3 separate regions of the Homo sapiens genome follow, and regions 2 and 3 are each linked to region 1. Evidence: fine-mapped expression QTL. A gene starts in region 1. Each other region holds a variant in brackets. All regions are shown on one strand. Distances are between the middles of the regions. Region 1 holds the start of MBOAT1 (membrane bound glycerophospholipid O-acyltransferase 1). Region 2 overlaps MBOAT1 (membrane bound glycerophospholipid O-acyltransferase 1). Region 3 overlaps MBOAT1 (membrane bound glycerophospholipid O-acyltransferase 1).

Region 1 (7,799 bases):
AGCCCACACAGACTCAGAACAACAAGCTGGGTCATGAGGACTTAAGTGAGAAGAGAAGAGACAGTCATGAGTTCAGCTGGCTGCATTGATTGCCAGGAAACTATCCACCCATTCATTCCAAAACATTGTTGTGCTTGGTACTATCATTGGCCCTGGGAAGTGGGCCGCAGAACAGAGTGAAAAGTAAGGGAAAAATACAAGAGTTGAGGGAGATTCCAATTGGTCTCCAAGGCAAATATAAAGTCTTGGGTCGAGGGGTTAACACTATGCAGCTCCCTGAAGCCTAAGGTGACAGTGGCCTCAGCAACAACACCCAAGGTGGAGTTAGGGTAGAGGACAGGGAGGGTGGGGCCAAGCACCTCCCAATACCCAGCGGCTCCAGGGCATTAGGCAAAGCCCCAGCTTGCTCTTTTTTCTTACTGCAGCCAACCATGGAATCTGGGTAGCACAGGTTTTTGTCTGTCTTTATGTACTCAAACATTATCTTCAATCACACTTTGCTATTCATAGGACACTTTGGCAATAGTAACTATTTGGAACACAGTCAAAGAAGTAGGAGGTATGGAAAGTGCCTCTGAAACAATGGCGTGGAGGATAGAATGGCTTGGAGTTTATCTGCTTAAAATAAAAATACTTTACTTTTTTAGGAGCTCCTTAGGCACTCTGCCAAAGCCGAGTGACTCTACGGCAATTCGTAGAGCTCCCCAGTTCACAGGGGAACCAAAGTAGCAGGCAAGGCAGGGACAAGTGAAATACAAGAGCAGAAGGGGAAATGGAAAAACTAGAAAGTAGACACAGTAGTTGAGAAAGTGTACCTCTCTGGGCATAGTTTAGAGCAAGGACAAACTCTTTTTTTTTTTTTTTCTTTTTTTGAGACAGTTTCACTTTTGTCCAGGCTGGAGTGCAATGGCACGATCTCGGCTCACCACAACCTCCGCCTCCCGGGTTCAAGTGATTCTCTGGCCTCAGCCTCCCTAGTAGCTGGGATTACAGGCATGTGCCACCATGCCTGGCTAATTTTTGTATTTTTAGTAGAGACACGGTTTCCCCATGTTGGCCAGGCTGGTCTCGAACTCCTGACCTCAGGTGATCTGCCCACCTCAGCCTCCCAAAGTGCCAGGATTACAGGCGTGAGCTACCACGCCCGGCTGCAAGGACAAACTCTTGATGTGTCAGTGGACTTCAAGACATTGCTGTATTGCAGGATGGGTTCTTGTTCACAATAATGCCTGAGTCATCAGTAATGATTAAGCTAAGATCACTAACTCTGTTTTAGTATTCAGGGTCACGTGCAATGCATTTTAGAAAGATCTCCCTTGCCTAAAACTAAGGCAAAAATGAAACATTAGTGCAGAAAGGGTAAGCTTCAGTTCTTTTATGTTTTTTGAACAAAATCTCTCCTCCAGTTCTTAGACCTGCTGCAAGGGATCATTATTCTTATTCCTATTTTACAGAGGAGGAAGCTGGGCCTTCATGAAGTTCATTGATTTGCTCAAAGTCCCCAAACTAGTAAAAGGCAGTACTGGTTTTTCATACCCGGTTGTTTTGCTCTAAAGGCTGAGTTCTTGGCCTCCTGGCCTCAGGACATCTTCCTACTTTGGCCTCCCAAAGTGTCAGAATTGCAGGCATGAGCCACTGCACCTGTTAATTCCTGGTCTAATACAGTATTCTTAAGCAAAAAATGCTATAACATAGCAGTCATAGCTAAATCTGGCAGATGTTCAGTTATATTAGTTTCTTCATTTTCTGAACATGTACAATGTTTAACTGTGATCCCAAGCTTGGAAAATATGTTGGGTAGGCAGGTTGCAATATATGTTCCAAGCAAACACACATCAGTTGAGCTAAAACATGAAGGAATACATCATTGATTGAAAAACATAAATTACCTGAAGCTTTGTGGATGATGCTTAAAGAAACTGCTCAGAAAACAATGGTGATACCTATCATGGGTCAATTTTGACCATTCTTCAGATCAGCTCTCAAATGTTAAGCCTGGAATTTAATGTCCTATGCAGGCAACAATTTCTGCTATTTTCCTGAAGGAAAATAGTATTATACTCCTAGTATAATAAAAAGTATAATAAAAAGATTTCTGTATAGTTAAAAAGAACAGTAGAATACCCAAGTTTGAACCCTACACTTGCTGTTTACTAGATGGATAAGCTAGCTGCAATTTATTAGAAACAGTATTCATTTGAATAAAAATTGAGATGACATGATAATACAAATGATAATAACACCTGCCCTTCCAACTTCATAGAGTTGTTGGGAGGATCAAAGGGGATAAGTGAGTGTGCTCTGTGAATATATAGTATCATTACATTAATATGTAGTATTATTAAAATGGTAATTCTTTTTTTACATGGGTTATATCATTTCAGATGGCTTAAATTTAGTTTTATTGGTGATTGTTTTTGGTTGAATATAGACTGAAGGTATCATTAGAGTTTTATCTCCTTGAGGGATTATACCTTTGTAAACTTTGAGGATGTATTTAATTCAGTTTTGTTCTTTGATTATCAGTTATGTTGTTTGATTTGATTTGGTATGTGAAGTAGGAAGAATGGAAAGTGCCTCTGAATATCCATGATAGAATGGCATGGAGTTTATCTACTTAAAATCAGAATACTTCACTTCTTTAGGAACTCCTTAGGCACTCTGCCAAAGCCTAGTGACTCTACAGCAGTTTGTAGAGTTTTTATTAGTCCATGGTAACATGCAGCCCTTCCCAATATGCTAGAATCTTTTTCAGGTTTTTTTGTGCCTGGCTTTAATTTTTTGACCTGTCTTCAGGATGTGCAGTGGATCTCCTGGATAATGTCACATTCTGAGCATGGTTCCATAGGGAAGATTCATAAAACTGACCTTGATATCAAGCCTCACTCTACTGCAAATAGAAAACAGGAGAGACAGCGTGTCTGTGGCATCACCCCTACCACCTCATTTTGAATGGTAAATGTAATGTCTCGTCTACAAAAATGACAAGGTTGTATCAGGTGTGTGGGCTGGCCTCTTGATAAAGAGAAAAATACTATGTTTTAGAGGAGGCAATGCATAATGAATAAAGAGCCCAGGCTCTGGAATCAGACAGACACATTTTACTTAACCTCCCTAAATACAACCAAGTCACTTAAGCTCCCTTAACCCCAGGTTTCACATCTATAAAATAGATTCTTATAACTACCACAGGATTATTAGCACTGGTAAATGAAACAGCTTTTGTAAAGTGATTTCTAACATATGATAATAATTATTGTGAACCTACAGTTGACAGAGGATGGAAATAGAGATACTGATGAAGGAAAAGAGCAATGTGTCCATGGTGCCGCTGTTATACATCTTGGACTCATATAAACAACTTCTTCAAAGTGTGTTTCATTCATCTGTAGTGTAACAGAGCTACTCTCTTGGTTCTGAGTTATCCAACAGTAGTATTTTTTTTTGCATTAATTGTACTACAGTATCAAGAGAAAAGAACTATTAAGTTCTGTGACATTTTGTTTATAAGCTCTAACCATAGTTACTACATTTTTATTTTTATTTTTTTTTTTGATGGAGTCTTGCTCTGTTAGCCAGACTGGAGTCCAGTGGCGTGATCTCTGCTCACTGAAACCTCCGTCCCCTGGGTTCAGGCGATTCTCCTGCCTCAGCTTCCCAAGTAGCTGGGATTACAGGTGCCTGCCACCACACCTGGCTAATTTTTGTTTTTTGGTAGAGATGGGGTTTCACCATGTTGGCCAGGCTGGTCTCGAACTCCTGACCTCAGGTGATCTGCCCGCCTCGGCCTCCCAAAATGCTGGGATTACAGGCATAAGCCACCGCACCCGGCCATTTTTAAAAGAAAAATTTAGACTAGGTTATGAACTGTGTTTTGTTAGGGAGAAAAAAACCTGTGTAAGGCTAATACATGTATATATTTTACATATACATATATACATATGTATATATCAAACCTGTGTTATATATATATATAAAAACTGTGTAATATATGTATATATAAACCTGTGTAAGGCTAATATATGTACATATAAAACTTTACATATATAAATATATTTATATATGATTATATAAATTAATATATTTATAATAAATATATATACACACGCACACACACACACATATATATATATGGCCTATGTGAGGACTATTCTTTGAAGTCTAAAAGGCATAGCTTTGTGAAAATTATAAAGGGTCTGAGGCACTTGCTCCAGAAATACTTCCCAAACTGACCTACTTCTGTTTTCCAGCAACTCATATCTGAGTGTTGATTTTTTTTTCCTTTTAAACAAAGCTCCGTCTGCTCTCATATACCTCACTTCAGCTGTCATCTAGCTCCAGATAAGATGAATGTTGCTCCAATGCTGGTCATTTTCCAGGACTCTATGATATTAAATGAACCTATCTAGCCTAGTGATCCTCAAGTATATGCCTGTGTGCGTGTGTGCATGTGTCTGTCTGTCTGTAGTGTGGGTTTGCTTGTGAGTGGTAGAGATTATCATCTGGTGGTGACATCTCCATTCGGTTAGCTTGTGGGAGTGGTGGTACAGACTTTTTTTTTTCCTCCTCCACAGGGGACATAGGTTGAGAAACTCTGGCCTGGCAATTTAATGCTCAGTGCAGTTTGATGGTGATAAAACTCCTGAAGAAGGCAAGAGTGAGGCCTGAGTCTTGGAGAGTAAGTTGTTGCCAGTGCCTGACAGGCCTTCGGTTTAATTTGAAGCTGGAGGCCACATTGATAAAGTCGGCCCCGAAAGTCATTGCCTGTCTGATCGAATGCCGGTTTACCCAGCGGAGGCTGGGGGCCACGTGAGCTCACTTTCTTTGGTTTTCTACCCAGCAGCCCAGAATATTACCTTCCTGAAACCCTTTTTCATCAGCTAGCGATTCCTGAAAAGGATCTTCAAGATTTTTATGTTTCTCAGAACCTAGCAATAACTTGGAAAAGTTTTCCAAGTAACATTGATGTGTGGGTGTTCGGGGGCAGACAAGTTAAGGAGCAAGGCACCCTTTTTGAGGACCCGTGGCATGCAAATGACTTATCAGAATGCACATAGTATGACAGTAAACACCGTTTCTTACAGAGGTGAAATAACTCTCACTCCACAGAGACGGAAGTGACCCGAAGCTAGCAGTCCCCTGTATTTGCTTGTGTGACACCGAACATGTCAGATCAGGGTGTAGGAAACTATGCCTAGCGCAGAGGAGGGTAAAGGAAGTAGGGAGTCTGGTGGCTGCGGCGCTCCAGCTTCCAGCCACCGGCAGAGGAACCCTCTACGGCTTGAAAGGGAAACGCAGCCACTCAGCCGCTTCGACTGCGGCGGCGAAACCAAAACAGGGTGGGGCGGGGTGGGTGGTGCTCTCTAGTGGAAGGCGCCCGCTGGGTGAGGTCGTTTTGTCTGGCGGGGGGCTAGGACGGTCAGCCCGGGAGGAGGAAAGGCGCGTCCCGCCTCCAGCTGCAGGGCCAGGCGGCGGCGCCCGCTGGCGTCGCTTTCCCTCTCCCGGTCGGCCTCGGTGCAGGCCAGGCTGGGCGGGCCGGGCGGCGCTTGGGGGCCGGGCTCGGAGTCCCCACTTTTCCTCCCTCCTTCCCTCCTCTCGGGGCCGTCCCGAGCGGCCGGGCCAATGGGCGCGGAGAGGAAGGGAGCGGGAAGCGGGGCGCCTTGGGCCCGGCCCTCCTACGGCGCCCGTGGCTGCAGCGCCAGCGCCAAAGCCAAGTTTGCGCCTCGAGAGTTTGCGCCTCGAGAGTTTGCGCCGGTTCGCATTCCCCGGCCTCCCGTTCGCTCCCCCGCGAACCAGGCGGCCGTGCGCCTCTCGGGGCAACCACCCAAGAGCACCCGGGCGGGAGGACGCCGAGCAGGGGGTGTTGCGGGCTGGGACAGGGGCAGCCACCTCCCGAAGATGCAGGATGGCAGCAGAGCCGCAGCCGTCCAGCCTTTCCTACCGCACCACGGGCTCCACCTACCTGCACCCGCTCAGCGAGCTCCTGGGCATCCCGCTGGACCAGGTAACTGCAGGCCGGGAGCGCAGCGACCCCAGCTCCCCAGCGATCGCGTGCACGGGGCGGGCGAAAGTGTTAGCCACCGTCCCTCCGCCTCCATGGCGTATTTTACAGCCACACACTAGACAGTTGGTTTTTGTGTGTGTGTGTGTGTGTGTGTGTGTGTGTGTGTTTTCCCTTCTTGAGTTGGTGTTAGTGTTTTTCTCCTTGTAAGTGTGAAAAAATATTGGTACAGCCTGCGCGGCAAGTTCTACTGAACTTTTTTTTCTTTAAGTTTGGGATTGCCTCGTTTCCTGTAATCAAGTTCTGAAGTAGTCTGATACATGAAACCAGTGTTTCTTTCATCAGTGTCCTCAAGTCGTTATTGTTTTTAATTTAGATGACCCTACTTAAAAAACAAGCGCGATGAATCTGTAGACGGTAGTCTATAGATTTTGAATGCAGGACCTGGGTTTTAGACTTCTGAGGCGAGGCTTGTTCAGGGGTGACAGTTATTTTGTACCGTGTGTGATGCGGGACACACAAGGACACTTTGGTTTTCCCAGGGTTCGGTTGGCTCATATGCCTGGGGCTGGAGCTTCTGAGTAGGACAGGTTAGGGGGAGGAGAGGGGCCCCAGTGAAGTTATTTGAACTGTCCAGGAATTATCTACAACCATTAAAATTAAAAATGGCAACAACAGTGATTCCTGGCAAGAAACCTTCCTGAAGATGAAGCCCGTCTTACTCATTTCCTTGTCTCTTCAGGTGCTGCAGGCTAGATCTGCGGGATACTTAGTAGTGACCCAATCAGTAAATGTTGATTTAAATAGAATTGGGCAGGGCATGCTGGGGGAGGACCCACTGCGCTCCTGTTTTGTTTCATGCTTTTTTGCCTGGTTTTCTTCCCCTTCCTCTCACCAGTGCTCCTTTTCCTTTCCTTTTAACAAGAGCACACCTGCTGCCCTTTGCGCACACCCCTTCAGCAATGAGAAAGTGAGACCTGGACATTTGCCTTATTCGGGTCCTGTTTACTGAGCCACCCTCATACCTGGCTCACTCTGAGGACCTGACTGAGAACTCCACCTGATGTGACCATTGCGTTCTCATCAGTTGCAGAATACAGAAAGTCAGAAACTTGGGAAGGGTTTCGGTGCCAAAGCATTTGTGCTTTTGTAAATTACTCTTTAGTTTCTGGTGAGGATGAGATAGACCCAGGGACCCAGGCAGAGGCGGACATAATAGCAAATTCTTTAGTTCTGAAATTAAATAAAACTCATAGCTGAATTTCCTTAAGGGGAGTTTGTTTTGTACTTACCTCTCCACTCCCTATCAGAAGGTATTTTAATTGCATTTTCTCTTCTAAGCTCTTCTACACAGCTAGAAAGACTCCAGGAAGGCTTTTTGTATGGCTAAAGGACCATGGCAAGTTATGGCTGGGAGGTGCTAGAATAATGTTTTTAATGTCTTTCAATTGCATCCCCTACTTTCCTATAAAGGTAATTCTGGTTTTAATTCATAAAAAGGAACAAAAGAGCCTTAGGAATGTTTAAAACTGGGAGGGAGGGAGGGAGGGAGGGAGGGAGAGACTTCTGGGATAAACCGAAGGAGAAATGTTTGCCATGGCCAGGAGCACCTGAGATCTCTTAGCTCTTAGGTCAGTCTGACCACCCTCCAGCAGGAGTGAGTGTGGATGACCCTTGGTGGAAGAAGCACTTAAAAGGCAGTGCCCCAGGTAGCTTATTTTAGGCCCAAGGAAAATCCCCAAACCATAAATAAGGTCGTTTGAGGCTACGTTGTGGCTTGCGAGTTTGGAAGCTTTGT
Region 2 (5,000 bases), 77 kb after region 1:
AATGCCACTGTACTCCACCTGGGCAACAGAGCAAGACCCTGTCTCAAAAAAAAAAAAAAAAAAAAAAAAAAGGTTAAAATGTGAGTGTATTTTTGTGTACTGGGTTGAAGAGTGTCCTCCCAAGATTCATGTCCACCCAGCACCTCAGAATATGTCCTTATTTGGAAATAGTCTTTGCAGATGCAATTAGTTAAGATAAGATGAGGTCACATTGGGCGGGGCACCGTTGCTCACAGTTGTAATCTCAGCACTTTGGGAGACTTGGAGATGGAAACCAGCCTGTCCAACATGGTGAAACCCCGTCTCTACAAAAAATACAAAAATTAGCAGGGCGTGGTGGCGCATGCCTGTAGTCCCACAGCTACATGGGAGGCTGAAGCAGGGGAATCGCCTGAACCCAGGAGGTGGAGGTTGTAGGGAGCGGAGACCACACCACTGCATTCCAGCCTGGGCGACAGGGTGAGACTTGGTCTCAAAACAAACAAACAAAATAAAAACCCAAACAAACAGATCAGGTCACACTGGATTAGAGTGGGCCCTAGATCCAGTACGACTGTGTCCTGGTAAGAAAGCCATGAGGGACAGACTCACACACATGCATACAGGGAAGACGGCCATGTCAAGATGGAGGCCGACATTGGAGTAATGCAGACGCAAGCCCGGGAGCTCAAGGGTTGCCGTCAGTCACCGGAAGCAAGGAAGGAGAATGGAACAGATTCTCTCTCAGCGCCTGCAGAAGGAACCAGTCCTGCAGATATCTTGATTTTGGACTTTTAACCTCAAGAACTGTGAGAGAAGACATTTTTGTTGTTGTAAGCCACCCAGCTTGTAATTTCTCACAGCAGCCCTAGGAAGCTCATGTGCGTTGTTTTATGATTCCCCACCTTTTGATGAATTAACAACCGTCCCCTGATCCTGATCATACAGGATAAGGATGCCTCTACCGTCTGCATCTCTGGCTGTTCTTGTCACATCTCCATTTGTTTTATTAAAACCATAAACTCTTGAATAATTTCTACATCATTTTGAATGTAATCAGAATTCTGAAATTATCAAAGGGAAAAAATAAAGGGCATTTGTGGAAAACAGTCACGTGCTTCTGAACATCGTGGATTTGGGGGTTTGACACAAGAGGAGCATGGAAATCAGTTCCTGTCAACCTCACTTTCAGCCACATAGTCTTGATAAATGTCCTCAAGAGATGTTTATTTTCTGGCATTTTTTGGATCTCCTCGTAGTAAGAAATCTCTGATGTTACCCACAAAACTACAGAATATTTAAACTAGAAAGGACATTGTTGTTAGGGAAATAATACAGAAAAAAAATCCGCCTGAAAATTGCATGTGATTCAGTTCTGTGATTACTGAGTGGCCCTACTATCTAGTTCTCGAAGGGTATGTTGTCTTTTTTTCTTTTTGTCATTATTAAGCAGTGTTATTTTTCCCTACCACCGTAAAGGCAGGCTGCCTCACTACCATAAATCCCTCTTCCTGGGTAATGTCAGTTAACATCCATGGAGAGTACATACCAACCTGAAATTGACAAAATGTTTTAAATCACAAATTGCCAGTTAGAGAGGTATTTTACCAGTGTTTATTCTCATTACAGGCATGCGAGCAAACCACAAGTTCATCAGAATGGAATTGATTTAACCCTACTATTGCAGTTGAAATATCTTGTTTCGGATTTTGTCAAGAGATAAAGTAGTATTTTGAAGTTGAACCTGGTGTTTTAAAGCAGCCTGATGTATAGCCATTCTCTTTTGAGCATGCATGCAAACCTAAATGTTTAGCATACTTTATTATGCCTTCAGAATAAGAGCACAGACAGGAATTGGATGGGATGGGATGAGGTTAGTGTTTGTGTTAAACAACGTGTGTGTGTGTGTGTGTGTGTGTGTTTAATTTTGGGGAACACATAAACTTGTATTTTAGATTATTCTGGGACTTGAAATTGTATTTTTCATTCCAAGAGTAATCAAGTTTTCATGGACTGGACTGGAATTAATGGTAAGGGAAACAAACAAGATACACTTTTATTGGTGCTGCTAATACAATTCATATCAATACATGCGGTGGTGAATGTCCTTTATGTTTTCTCTGTGGTGAATGTGGGCTGTTAAAAGCACTAGAATATTTCCTGTTCTCCTGGGGGAAGCTCAATGATTGCTTGTAATACAGCTGGTACTTAGTTCCTTTTAGGTTTGTGAGAGCAAACTGATTCTTCCTTTTTGCTCACAGAAGGGTGCAAATCGAGTTTTCTTTGGAGGGCCCCAGCAAGAACTCTTATTTCCTTTTGCCATGGTAGGCCAGATTCAGGCAGATAATTGCTCTCCCATCACGATTGCAGGTTGATTTGCCCACATGTTGTTGTAAACACTGTGAAATGAGAACTCTTATGTACTGCTAGTGGGAGTGTAAACTGGCATAACTCTTCTGGAAGGCAGTTTCACCATCAATTTCAAACAAGATTTTTTTTTTAAAGTTCATATCCTATGATAGGATAAATTCCTAGGAGTTAAATTACCATAAGGAAATCAAAATTTATTCATAAAGATGTTCAGCTGTTGTCAATAATGGTGATAAACCAGAAACATCCTAAATGGTCTAAAAGAGATGAATGATTAAATTATGGTGCTACTATGCCTCCATTGAAAATGATATTTTCAAAGACTATAAAAACCATAAGACAAATACATGTCCCAAGATTGCATTTTTCTTTTTAATGTGGACATGTATAGAAAAAGAGTGAAAGGAAATATTGAAAATGCGAAAGCAGTATTGGTGATTTTAATACTCATTCTACTCTTTTATATTACTATAATAGTGAGAGAAAATCCTGGAATTTTATTTAAATATATTTGCATGCGTGTTAAAAGGTTATGGTGCACTGAAGCTA[G/A]CAGAATTGGAACAACTGCTGTTTGTGTTCCTTGTTGCCTTAATTGGGTGTAATAGAAATATTACTTGCCTGTACCTCTTGCTAGCGATAGAGATCATTTGTCCTATTGTTCCGTGGACAGTGTTTTCCTCTGTTGGTTTATGACATCCTGGTCACTCCATCTGACCAGCCCAATATGTTCAAGTAATTGGGTTCCATAATAGGGAAAAAAAGAGGATATTTGCAAAGAGATTTCAAGATTTGTTTATTTCATGTTTCTTTTTCATGCTGCTGCCAGCTTTTCAATAACTAACACAGTCACTTGGAATTTAATTCTGCAGACATAAGTTATACCAAGTATATTCGAATATAGAGAATATTCAAATCGAGAATTGGTGATTTTGTTGTTGAGTGCCAAAATATAGAAGTTAAATTTTTGAAGAAATTAAAAGAGTAAAAGCTTTCCTACTCTAATTCACCCCTGGATGGTTCTGAATAGATACTAATGAACTCTGAAATGAGTCCAGAGGCGTGATCTCTGCCTTTAGTTGCATCCCTAGGAAGCCTGGTAGAACTATGTACTTCCTTTGCTGCAACTTCTGGAGTTGCTTATTTTCTCATGCTGACATAATTGATAAGAATTGGGAGCATTCCACTGAAGCTGTAATATCCTCCTCCTCCTCTGCAGTCATTCAGGGAGTGTGGGGAGGGTATAGGAGAGGCAGAAGCAATAGAGAGGTGAGGAAATGCTGCTTGAGCTTTCTCTGTCCCTCGCTACCAGGTCCGAGCTGCAGGTTGTACAAGTCACATTGTATCTTGGCACCCACTGGAGTTGTGCGAGATGGCAGTAGCGGTCTAGGTTGCTGTTGAGTGGAAGTTTGTTGAATCTGTATTCTCTTCCCCTGCCAAACTTCTTGCTTGCCTGACTTCCTGCTTTTCTACTGTCCAAGTACCACAAGTAGATTTTTATTATAAGCAAAGGAAGTAATAAAGATACGAAGTAGAGCCTTTTGGTTCTAAAATTACCTGTTGGGAGAACATCAGAGGCTTGAATGTCAGTTCATCTTGATGCTGGCCAGCCAGACGTGTGATTGGTTGGCTCTTCCGACACCAATAACCGATGTCTGGGTTATCTCATTGTCCCATCCTACCTTTACTGGGACATCAGAACTCTACCACTTTAGGTCCAAAGATTAAGGTAAAATAGGTAGGTTTTATTGAAATATTGCTCAAATCTAAGATTTTGTTTAATGTTTTAAAGATAAATTATTTTTGGTTAGGAGCTGATGTTGGGAATGAATGAATGAATGGGTACCACATCTGATGAATTGCCTAGAGTCTGTATCAGAAGGCAATAATGGGGGGTGCTGGCATTGTTCTAGCTTTCTTTTTACTTCAAACATATCTTCAGCTACCTGTTTTCTCTTAATTTTTCCTATTCTATTATATTTCATTGTCTAGTCTTGACTAATGATCTTAGTTTCAAGAAGAAACATAAGATTTTTCTTTGGCTTTTTTTAATAATGAAAAAAATGTATAGGACAATAGTAAAATAGCCCTACTTCATCCATGCTGGAGTCTATCCAACTCCAGGTTGGTCAGATGGTGGATCCTATGATTGGATCCTATGATTGACAAGTGCGTTTAAATCCAAGGTTGGAGAGGTGAAAATCTGAGTGAAGCTCAAGTTCGGAGGCCTCATAATTTTAAGGAAATTGTTGGGGCTGCATCAAGGAGCCATTTATGGATCTCCTCCTTTTTTTGTCCTTCCTGTGCTTTTAGTATGTTCTCCTGTACTGAGTTTTGTATTTTTTTGCAAAAAAAAAAAAAAAAAAAAAGAACATGAATTCCAATCATAAACCAATAAATGTGTTCTGAATTGTTTTATGATTTGATTGAAGTATGACATAGATGATACTTAAGTTTTATCTTAAGTCAGTAACTCTAAGGATTTGATTCTCAAGTCTTAGTAACTTGGGCGAAGTACATTTTCATATCAGATCTGTCCATAAGTTTAAATAAATTCATCAAATTAAAAAGTGTTCAGAGAGAACTTGTTTTGAGAAAGACAGTATGGTGCTTTTCCTTGCACTGCACAAAAGTAAGTATGTAGGAAGATTCTA
Region 3 (5,000 bases), 50 kb after region 1:
AGTAGCTAGGACTACAGGTGCAAGTCATCATGCTTGGGTAATTTTTTAAATTTTTCATGGAGATGAGGTCTTACTCTCTTGCCCAGGCTGGTCTTGAACTCTTGAGCTCAAACCATCCTCCCGCCTCGGCCTCCCAAAGTGCTGGGATTATAGCATCACGCCTGGCAGATTTCCTACTTTATCCTTGAATGACACTGATTTGGCCACCCAATTACTGATGCTGCTGAGCAGACACTCCAAGACCACTCCAGGCAGGACAACATGTGCAACAACTCTGTGCAGGGAGCACAGAACAGAGAATACCTTTGTCTAAAGGCATGCTGGCTCCCAAAGAGAGAAGTCCCCAAAGGCCTGAGCTGGGCCTGCTCAGTGTCTCTTCTCAATTTAGCAGCTGGCTAATTAAGTCATTCCTCCTTCCCTGGGAAGGAGAGTGGGAGGGAGTTAGGGCGGAGAAAAAGGGGAAATGTTCCTTCCGTATTTTCCCTCCTAGGGAATGGAGTAAAGATAAACCTCTCTCTATGAAAATCTAAGTTCACCACACCTGCCATACTGTGTGGAATATTATACAGCTTTAAAAAGTACAAGCTAGCTCAGTATGAGTTGACTTGGAAAGATGTCCATCTTTTGTTGAATGAAAAACAAGTTACAGTGTAGTTTTTATACCATGGTTATGATAAAGTAAAGGAGAAATCAATGCATATGGGTATATTTTTGGATTTTGAAAGTAAATATAGGAAACAGTATTAAAGTGTATGCTCCATCTGCTAAAGAGGAAGATGCATGCTAGATATAGAAGGTTGGGATTATGAGGGATCTGTGAACTTCTCTCATGTACATCTCTGTATTGTTCATTTTTTTTAAATGAGCATTCATTAATTTTATAATAAAATGAAATTAGCTAAAAAATGAACTCTATGGCTTCTTTTAATGGACTTCATTTGTATGTAGTTCTCCTAGATGCCTGGAAGGACCTGCAGTTCTTATATGTTTCATTCTATCTTTGGAACATAGGATGTTGGGTTAATTAGCTCAGATGACTTTTACCTATTCTAACCAAACTGGTTTCCCTATTCTTTTTTTTTTTTTTTGAAACAGAGTCTTGCTCTGTTGCTCAGGCTGGAGTGCACTGGCACGATCGCGGCTCACTGCAGCCTCCGCCTCCTGGGTGCAAGCGATTCTCCTGCTTTAGCCTCCTGAGTAGCTGGGATTACAGGTGTGTGCCACCATGCCTGGCTAATTTTTGTATTTTTAGTAGAGATGGGGTTTCACCATATTGGAAAGGCTGGGCTTGAACTCCTGACCTCAAGTGATCCACCCGCCTCAGCCTCCCAAAGTGCTAGGATTACAGGTGTGAGCCATTGCACCCAGTCCACTATTCATTTTAAGCCTTCTGCGTAGAGTTGGGTACACAGTGTGCCAAATGTTTCTCATAGCCCCTCTGCAGGTTCGTGAAGCAGGGTGTATGGAGTGGACTAGCTCTCAAAAAAGTATCAAGCAATACAGATGTTGTAGTTAATGTTGGACATGTAGTTTTGAATCCATTTACAAAGTGGAAGCAGATTGGACCACGGAGTCAGGAGAATCTGGCCACAGTAACCTTTCCCCTCTATGTACCGGTTTCCTTACCCACAAAATGAGGGGCTTGGATCAGATAATTGCTAATAGTCCTAGCTTCTCTTGTCTATTTTATGCCTGATTTAAATCTTTAATTACAGATGCTCCTCAACTGACGATGGAGTTACATCCTAAAAAACCCACTCTAAGTTGAAAATATCAGAAAAATCAAACAATGCATTTAATATGCCCAACCTATCAATATCATAGCTTAGCCTACCCTATCTTAAATATGCTCAGAACACTACAGGTAGGCAATAATCTATCACAAAGCCTATTTTATAATAAAGTGTTGAGTATCTCATGTAATTTGTTGAATACTGTACTGAGAGTGAAACACAAAATGGTCATATGGCTACTCAAAGTTCGGTTTCTACTGAATGCAAGTCACTTTCACACCATCTTAAAGTTGAAAAATCGTAAGTCGAACCATCATAAATAAGTCAGGGACTGTCTGTACTCTAACATACACTCGCTAAGCTGCCTCTTTCTTCCCGGTTGGCATTAGAAGTTGAAGCTGTGGATCTCAGCCCTGGCTGAATATTAAAATCACCTTGGAACTTAAAAAAAATTTTTTTAAAAGATGCCTTATCCCCCAACCTCCCACAAATTCTGATCTGGATTAGGATTCTAAAATCAGTCACTTTAAATTTTAATTTTTCAAAAAAACAGATCTTTGGTTGATTCCAGTGTTGAGAGCTGCTATGTTGAGAAGTCCTGCTAGTTAGCTACTGTACACTTTGTAGCCTATCTAATACTTGTGAAGCTTTATAGTTCTTTTAAAGTAGTATATAAAGTACTTTTGTAGTACTTTCACGTTCCATTTAGTGCCCACCACAATCTGGTAGGGTAGATGTTATTAGTATCCCACATACCCACTTAACCTTGTAAGTCTCTTATTTGAGGTTACTTTTCATGATGGAACCAGACTGAAAGAAGGTGACTCCAGGCCCAACTGGGTGGACCTGAGCCACAGGAAAAATTTCAGGTTACATATATATGGGGTGTGTTTGTGTGTGTGTGTGTGTGTGTGTGTGTGTGTACATGCACATACATTCTATATTAAATACATATATTTGTATTATATATAGATTTTATACACACACATTATATAGTAAACATAAGTATATATTATGTACATAATATATACACATATTAAAAATATATATTATGCACACACATTATTCAGACACATGCACATACAAACATGCCATTGGTAGTGATCTCTATCTGTATAAAACTTGACATCCC[G/A]GGCCCCGGTCAAGGTTGTAAAATCACCCCCTAACATTCCACCTCCTTATTCAGTGGGATCCCTTCAGCAGTGTGTGCCCCTCACTCCTTATGGAGGCCCAGAATTCTTTACTCAGGCTCTTATTTTTAGATGGGCCCCTTCTGACCCTCTGTACCCCAATTTTCTCCCACCTCACCTCCAGGGCTGCTGGGGAATCATCAGAAGGCATGCTGGACTGGAGTCAGGACACCTGAGTTCTGGTCTTAACTCTGATGTTCAGAGGCTGTGTGACCCAGGCCAGGTCACGTACTGGCTCGGGGCTCCAGTTCCTTCATCTGGAAAGTGAGATATTGAATCATGCGAGAAGGTTGTGCCTGAGTAGAACCAGACTCCCTGAGATTAAATTCCAGTGTTGCCACTGACTGGGTGTATGATTTTGGGTAAATTTTCTAACCTCTCCATGACTGAATTTCCATATCTGTAAAATGGAAGCCTCAAAGCACATCAAAAGTTGTCAAGATAAAAGGAATTATACAGGCAGAAGGAATGAAAACAGTTCCTGGGAGGTAGTCAGCAGCACATTAATGCTAGCCAATGTTAATATTATTAACAATAAAGTATGAATAATATTAACATTTTTAACTGGTTAACAGTGGAATTTAATGGGAATGTTTTCTTTCCAGAGGTGAGGAGTAACAGCGTGCTTGTGGACAGGGTTTTTTAAGAGTCCTAAATGGTCCTGAGTTTTATACAGTCTTCCCTGCCTGCTGGGCCAAGGATTATAAGGATTTGATTTATGGGATAGGAGGCAGGCTGAAATACGTAGATATCACCTATGTACTTCAGGATTTTTTCTTGCCTCGAAGCCTAAAGAGACAGCACAATCGTTTTCCACCTTTTAGCCATTGGAGTAAGTTTTTAAAGGGCTTTCGTTCTAAATCATAACTAATCCATGTGACATGATATTTGCAAAATAAGGTAAGCCAAAAGTCTCCCTGTACAATTTAATCTCTAAGTGTATAAGGACTCTTTCTCTGAGCATTAAAGGAGGGATTATCCCATTCTAGAGGGACTGGAGGATGTACCCAGCACTGATGGAAAGAAGCTTGGTTCATGACTATACAAACTACAGACAGAGGGTTTACACATGCCTCAAAGAACAGTTGTTGGAAAGGACTTTCAGCTCTATCAGTTTAATTCAAATTTTCCCTTGTACAAGAATGAGATCTTGAGAGGCCACTGCAGGCAACCTAAGCCTCTCAGTTTGACTAATGGAGCTGCCCTACAGCTGAGGGTTTTGGGGCCATTGACTTTGTGCGAGTTTTCTCAGTAGCACATCGAGAGTTGTCAAGAAGATTAAATGAGACAGTAGATGTGAAGCATGCAGAATAACAGCCAACATTTGTGGAGACTCCAGCACATAATATGTGTTTAATAAATGCTGATTATTATTGCTTCAAAACTTGTATGTTTTAAACAAAGGTCAAAGGATAATGAACTTTCTCAACATGTGTAAGCCCATTGTACCCATTATAGGTTAACAAGCTCCTGACACACACAGGAGCTGGGAGAACCCTCTCTGGTGCTGTCTGTAGTGGCTGAGGCACCTCCAGGCAGATGGGAAGCTCCGAGGCTCCCAGCATCCCACGCAGCCTTTGCTTTGAGTCTTACCTGCTTCCTAGCTGTAGGTGCAAAGAAAATGAAGTGTGTTTCATTCCGTGGGTTTGAGTAGAGGATTTTTATTGGGCAGTGTTGTGGGCCAAATGTGTTCCCCCAAAATTTAAATGTTGAAGTCCTAAACCCCGAGTCCCTCAGAATGTGGCTGTATTTGAGACAGGGCTTTCAAAGCAGTCATTAAGTTATTAATAACTTAGTAGTGAAGAAAGTCATTACAGTGGGTCCTAATCCAACATGACCGGTATCCTTGTAAGAAGAGATTAGGACACAGACACACACACAGGGAAGACACAGGGAGAAGACGGCCATCTGGAGCCAAGGACAGAGGTCTCAGAAGAAACCAACCCTGCCGACACCCTCAATCTCAGATACCAGCCTCCTGAACTGGGAGAAAAATAAATTTCTGTTGTGTTTTGCCCCCCAACCCACCCTCCAGTTTTTGGTATTTTGTCATGGCAGCCCTAGAAAATGAATACAG

Evidence for each region. PIP is the estimated chance that this variant, and not a neighbour inherited with it, causes the effect.
Region 2: its variant is the best candidate, but not a certain one, in a credible set for the expression of MBOAT1 in whole blood (TOPMed, PIP 0.82).
Region 3: its variant is the best candidate, but not a certain one, in a credible set for the expression of MBOAT1 in subcutaneous fat (GTEx, PIP 0.77).

The regions. Positions count from the first base shown.
Region 1 is chr6:20,210,341-20,218,139 of GRCh38, reverse strand. MBOAT1 (membrane bound glycerophospholipid O-acyltransferase 1) reads left to right here and starts at 5,671. Exons shown (of 13, transcript NM_001080480.3): 1 at 5,671-6,004. The coding sequence starts at 5,906. RefSeq lists an enhancer at 4,643-5,143 and a silencer at 5,326-5,865.
Region 2 is chr6:20,134,618-20,139,617 of GRCh38, reverse strand. The region is part of intron 4 of MBOAT1 (membrane bound glycerophospholipid O-acyltransferase 1); the gene reads left to right. Among named protein-coding and RNA genes, the nearest start is that of MBOAT1, 75 kb to the left of the region's middle. The variant G/A (reference allele first, on the strand shown) is at 2,899.
Region 3 is chr6:20,161,831-20,166,830 of GRCh38, reverse strand. All of the region lies in intron 1 of MBOAT1 (membrane bound glycerophospholipid O-acyltransferase 1), which reads left to right. Among named protein-coding and RNA genes, the nearest start is that of MBOAT1, 48 kb to the left of the region's middle. The variant G/A (reference allele first, on the strand shown) is at 2,866.